Linked DNA regions of Homo sapiens: region 1 is linked to region 2. Evidence: fine-mapped expression QTL. A gene starts in region 2. The other region holds a variant in brackets. All regions are shown on one strand. Distances are from middle to middle. Region 1 holds the start of LOC101926948 (a long non-coding RNA gene). Region 2 holds the start of CD72 (CD72 molecule).

Region 1 (2,877 bases), 28 kb after region 2:
GGTGGAGCATGCCTGTATTCCCAGCTACTCGGGAGGTTGAGGCAGAAGAATCGCTTGAACCCAGGAGGCGGAGGTTGCAGTGAGCCGAGATCTCGCCACTGCACTTCAGCCTGGGCAACAAGAGCGAAACTCCGTCTCAAAAAAAAAAAAAAAAAGGAATTCATTAGCTTACATAGCCAAAAAGTTCAGAAGGCAAATATAGCTCTGGGCATGTCTAGATTCAAGGTTTCAAATGAAGTCATTAAGACTCGGTCTGGGCCAGGCGCTGTGGCTCACGCCTGTAATCCCAGCGGGTGGATCACTTGAGGTCAGGAGTTGGAGACCGGCCTGGCCAACACGGTGAAACCCCGTCTCTATTAAAAATACAAAAATTAGCAGGGCATGGTGGTGCACACCTGTAGTCCCAGCTACTAGGGAGGCTGAGGCAGGAGAATCGCTTGAACCCAAGAGGTAGAGGTTGCAGTGAGCCGAGGTTGCACCACTGCACTCCAGCTTGGGCAACAGAACAAGACTCCGTCTCAAAAAACAAAAACAAACAAAAAAAAACTTGGTCTGTATTATGCATTGTATGCGTATATCAAAATATCTCATGTACTCTATAAATACATACACCTACTATGTACCCATAAAAATTAAGAATTAAAAAACACTTGGTTTCTCTCCACAACCCAGCTCTGTTTCCCTCCTTGTAAGAAAACCAAGCTGGAAGTTTAAACCCATCTTTGAGAGACTACAGAGCAGGGCCAAAGATGGAGGTGCCCTGGCCGGATGGCTTCCAAAGACCCTCCCCACCTATAAGTAATTTCTTAAGAACCTGGCCAGGCTCGGTGGCTCAAGCCTGTAATCCCAGCACTTTGGGAGGTCTAGGTGGGCGGATCACCTGAAGTCAGGAGTTCACCAGCCTGCCCAACATGGCGAAACCCTCTCTCTACTAAAAATACAAAAATAATTAGCCGGGAGTGTTGGCGGGCGTCTGTATTCCCAGCTACTCAGGAGGCTGAGGCAGGAGAATCTCTTGAACCTGGGAGGCGGAGGTTGCAGTGAGCCGAGATCGTGCCATTGCACTCCAGCCTGGGCGACAGGAGCAAGACTTCGCCTCAAAAAAAAAGAAAAAAAAAAAGAACTTCCTGCTGTTGAACCTTTGACTGTCCCGGAGACCCTCCCTCTTCCGTTTTCAATGTGTCCCTATCCTCCTAGCTAGGCTTTAAGAAAGAGGAGGGACAGCTGGGGCCCTAGGAGCTCCCCCTGAGGGTCTGTCCCTGGGAACGGGGCGCTAGGACGGGCACTCCTTCTGGCTGGAATGCTACGCCGGTGAGGGAAAGGAGTCCACTAGGGAAGTACCTGGAGGTGGAGACGGGGAGAGAAATCACAGGTATTTGTGAGTCGATCAGCTAGAGGGTGTGGCAAGGGGGGGCCCCTCGGAAGATGTCTTAAGTTCCAGGTTCAGGAATCAATAGGGAAACTGCCCAGTCCTTGTGTTCAGGGCTGAGGGCCTCGGTGACGGAGACGAG[G/C]TAAGAAAACGGAACGGCTGTACAGGAGAAGACAGAGAATCCGGGCTGGGGGACGGAAAACAAAGTTCAAATCATACCCCGCTACAGTCACATATGAAAAATAAAATTGTTTTACAGAAACTCAGTTTACAAACGACTGCTTGGGAGCAGTCATGTCACCCAGTCCAGAGGGAGCCGGTCAGCTGCGTTCCGCGAACTTGGGAGGCGACTGCTGGGGTAGCGGCGGGGCCCTCACTGCGCGTCGTCAGGGACCAGACCCTGGGGTGGCCCCGAAGCGTCGAGACTACAACTCCCGGGATGCCGCGGGCCAGGCTGCATCCCGCCTGCGCAGAAGTGGTGGCAACTCCGCCCCTCGCCAGGCGGCGGCGCTGCGGACTCAGTCCTAAGCGGGCGAAGGCGGCGAGCGCCGTGGGTCTGGGCGGGCCAGGAGAACCGGGTGCTTCGAGGAGATCTGCGGGCTGGGTTGGGGGCGTTTGACCCCTTGGCTTGTCCCAGTGGGTAGGCGGGACTCCAACCCCCGCCTCCTCCAGGGTAAAGCTCTCACGTCCACCTGGCGCGACGCTGAGCCATCTTCAGAAGCACCGCAGCCCTCAGAACCCCACATCCCGCTGCCGGTGGTTCCCCGCATCCGGTGTCCGCCCCCGAAGCCTCCCTCCCTCCCTCCTCCGCATCCCCAGCTACCTGCCCTTAACCGCGACCTGGGCCTCTCCTGGGGAGGCCCAGGGTGGGGTCCTCAGAGGTCCAGGGACCCAGGGGCATTTGTGGGGTCTGTAGGGGGGTGGGCTTAAGGGAAGGGTGGTCCCTTTCAAATTGGGACCACCAGGCAGGAATCAGGCGCACGGGTTCCTCCTCTGTGGCTTCCTGTGGCACTCCAAGTGGGAAGAAGAGAAGCTTGGAAGTGAAAGCCTCAGCTTCTCCTTTCTTCAGCCCCTCAAGCCTCAGAAAGATCTGTCAAGCGCGGCCCGCCTCTACAGAGGCCCTGGGGAGATGGTCTAGACCTTGAAATATCCTAGAAGAGGTTTGACAGGTTGGAGCTTTTGCTAGACAGATGGATCACAGATGGGCTTAAGGGGTGGAGGGTGTGTGTGTGTTTGTGAGAGAGAGAGAGAGAGAGAGAGAGAGAGAGAGAGAGATTGCCAGGTGAGGAAGGTGATGAGCTGAAACCAACTTGGAGCTATGCTGTATTATGATGATGAGGATTTGGGTTGGGGGGTGTTACAGGCTCTAACCAGAAATCTGGAAGATGTGATAGGTGGGGCCTTTAAAAAAAAAAAAAACCCTAAACATCTCTTTGTAATCCATCCCTCCTCTGCATCCCTACCGCTACTGCCGCCATCCCCTCTCACTCAAATCTTGCAATAGCCTT
Region 2 (2,899 bases):
AGCTGAGGGGGCAAGCATGGTGGTTTCTGTCGGGTAGCGGGGTGTTTCGCAGGTAGGGGAGAGGGTGTTCCAGAATCAGTGCTGGTGGGGACTCGGGGGCGTTACCTGGGAGAAGGGGAAGGAAATATCAGACGGAGAGAGGGGAAGGGGGGCAGGTAGGTGAATTGGGACCATCCGCAGGGGGGCGGTGCACGTCGGATTCAGGCGCACCGGATGAAGGTGAATGTGGCACGGCAGCCCGGGCGTCGGAAGGACTGCGCCCGGGTTTATCCCGGAAGGAGCTGCACCCCGCGGGGCCCAGCGCCATCCGCAGCCGGGACAGGCGCGAGCACTTGGCCCCGCGGCTGCCCCGCACAGGCACACTCACAGGGGAGAATCCGCCCGACAGCTGGTGACGTCACGGCTCTCCAGGACGCAGTTGGCTGCTCCGACTTGACCGCTGTCGAGGGGAGCATCCAGTGTGAGACCGGAAGCCCCGAGTGTTGCCCCTTCTCCTCCTGCGCACCCGCTTCGCCCTCGCCACTGGGAAACTCCAGTCTGCCCTACGTTGCCTGCTAGAGCTGCTCTGGGACACAGTGTCACTCTCCTGAGTTCCTCCTCTGCCCGGGACTCTCTCGGCTTCCTCCTGGGTCTCACTGTATCTTTTCCCGGGACCCCCTCATCTCTCCTAGTTCTCCCTTTATCGTTTCCTCAGAGGCCCCTTATCTGTCGGCTCCAAACCCTCTCCCCCTTTGCTCTCATCCATCTCCCATCACCTCTTTTCCCTCCCATGGCTCCCCGTTTCCCATTAGAACTCATCCCCCACAGGGCTGCCCTATCCCTCCGCAGCCCTTATCTCCCCGAAAGGGGTCTCCACCTTGCGGGAGGAATCTTTCTTCCTCCCCTGGCTCCCATTTATCCTGTTCCTATTCTTCTGTTTCCTAAGAACCGCCCTCCTCCTTTCCCCAGGGTATTGTGCTCTCAAGAATACTGAGGGCCATGGCATGGGGGCGCACGCCTGCAATCCCAACACTTTGGGAGGCCAGGGCAGGAGGATCACTTGAGCCCAGGAGGTCGAGGCTGCAGTGAGCCATGATCACACCACTGCACTCCAGCCTGAGTGACAGAACAAGACCCTGTCTCAAGAACAACAACAAAAACATTGTGGACTCCCCAGCTCAAGACACAGCCCCCCAACAAACACACATCCCCCAGGCTCTCCAGACCTGCTTTGTCCCCTAGTACAGAAGAAGCCAAGCTTGAGGGCACCCCTAGGACTGCGGGCACTTGAACATTCTCGTAGGTGATTTCCCCATCATCATCAGCCCCTGGGTCTAGAGAGAAGAGAAAAGGGACCAAGGTGGGATTTGGGAATGGGATCTGTGGGGCGGGAAGTGGGGATGCAGGATCAAGGGGAGGCCTCATCCCCCTTACCCTGTCCTAACCGGCTGGAGATGCTCTTCTTCAGGGGAGCCTTCACAAACCTCAGATCTGCATAGGTGATGGCCTCAGCCATGGTCCTGAGCAGCTCTGCCCCCACTCGTCTTCCCTGTCATCCACTGTCCTCCCTTGCCCCTCTCGTCTCTGTCCGTTTACAACTAGGCTCTGTGTTCCCTCTGTGACTGCACGGCTTAGCAATTGGCCCTGTGACTTCCAGTCACAAAAGAGGAAGGTGTTAGCAAGTCTCAAACAGATGGGCTCAATGAAGCAGAAGGCATCCCTGGGCCAGGGCCAGAGGGGCCACGGAGGGGACGCTGAGGTCCAGAACACAGGGGTAGGGGATGGGCCTGTCCCCATGTCCTCCCTGTGCTTCCTCTCCATGCATCTTAAACCCATATGGGCCATGCTGGGCCCCAAACTCGGTCCTTCTGGTTATCTGCCCTGATCTGCCCCACCCTCCTCCTGGCTGCCTTGTCCACTGGGGCTTATGATGTGTAGCTGGAGCTGCACTGACCCAGACGATCTCCCCAGCTCCAGGGTGAGGCTCCGTTCTCCCCATGAGACTGGGGGTTCCTGGTTTGCATCCCTCGCTTCTCATCATCCTGGGGGTTCCAGTAACTGGGGGTTCAGGAACAGGCCTGGGCCAGAGGTGAAGGTAAGGAAGAGCCATGGCTGCAGCACCTCTGGAAAGGCAAGTGGCAGCACTGCCCCCCATGCACCCTCATGGGGAGCCAGGGAGCAGGTGAGCAAGGGAGTTGCAGAGGGCTTAAGAAGGCTGCAGCTTCCTAGGTGAAGTCAAGGCAGAGGAGCAGAACAGAGCCAGAGGCCGAGCGCAGATTCCGGACCAGCGGAGGTCTTGACATTTTCTTGGTTTGGTTTTGGTTCGTCTCTTACTTTCCTAGCAAAGTTCTTTCTTTAAAAAGTCCCAAAGCTGTCCCTTCCCACCCAGCCCCAAGGAAAAAGGGGGCATTTGTGGCGGAGGACCCAGGGACCGCGAGGCCCTCATAGGTGGTGGGGGCCTGGCTGATGGAGGAGAGAGGGAACCAGTTGGGGGAAAGGGGGCTGCTGAGCAGGGGTGCCCAAAGGTGCTCCCTAATGTTCTTTTACCGGGATGTGACCCCTACTAGGAACCCCAAAATGGCCTACATCCGGGATAGGAAGGAGCTAGAACAAGATGTAGTGTGGGGGTGGGAAGAACCCGCCCCTAGCAAAGTGACATCCGCCCCGCAGAATCCCCCTCCTGCAGCTGTGGGGAGGAAAAAGGAAGGGGGAAAAGGTCCTCACCACATGCCAACAGCTCGGATGATTGGTGGTGTGTGGCAGGACACTGCCAGGGACCCTAGAGCTCTGCCAATAGCTCCGCCCAGCCAGCCCTAGAGGAAGTGGCCACTGAGGCAAAGCTGTGACCTCAAAAATGTACTTGTAGAGAGGCACGTGTGCATGTGTGTGCATGGATATGCATGTTCCCAGGACTTTGCAG

What was found.
Region 1: its variant is fine-mapped to the expression of CD72 in sun-exposed skin (GTEx, PIP 0.91).

The regions. Positions count from the first base shown.
Region 1 is chr9:35,645,062-35,647,938 of GRCh38, forward strand. LOC101926948 (a long non-coding RNA gene) reads left to right here and starts at 1,209. Exons shown (of 2, transcript NR_135130.1): 1 at 1,209-1,372; 2 at 1,629-2,415. It also overlaps a transcript of CD72 not described here. RefSeq lists an enhancer at 1,381-1,760. The variant G/C (reference allele first, on the strand shown) is at 1,512.
Region 2 is chr9:35,616,809-35,619,707 of GRCh38, forward strand. It overlaps CD72 (CD72 molecule), which reads right to left and starts at 1,605. Exons shown (of 9, transcript NM_001782.3): 1 at 1,414-1,605; 2 at 1,206-1,313; 3 at 368-439. The coding sequence starts at 1,495. RefSeq lists enhancers at 1-20, 460-609.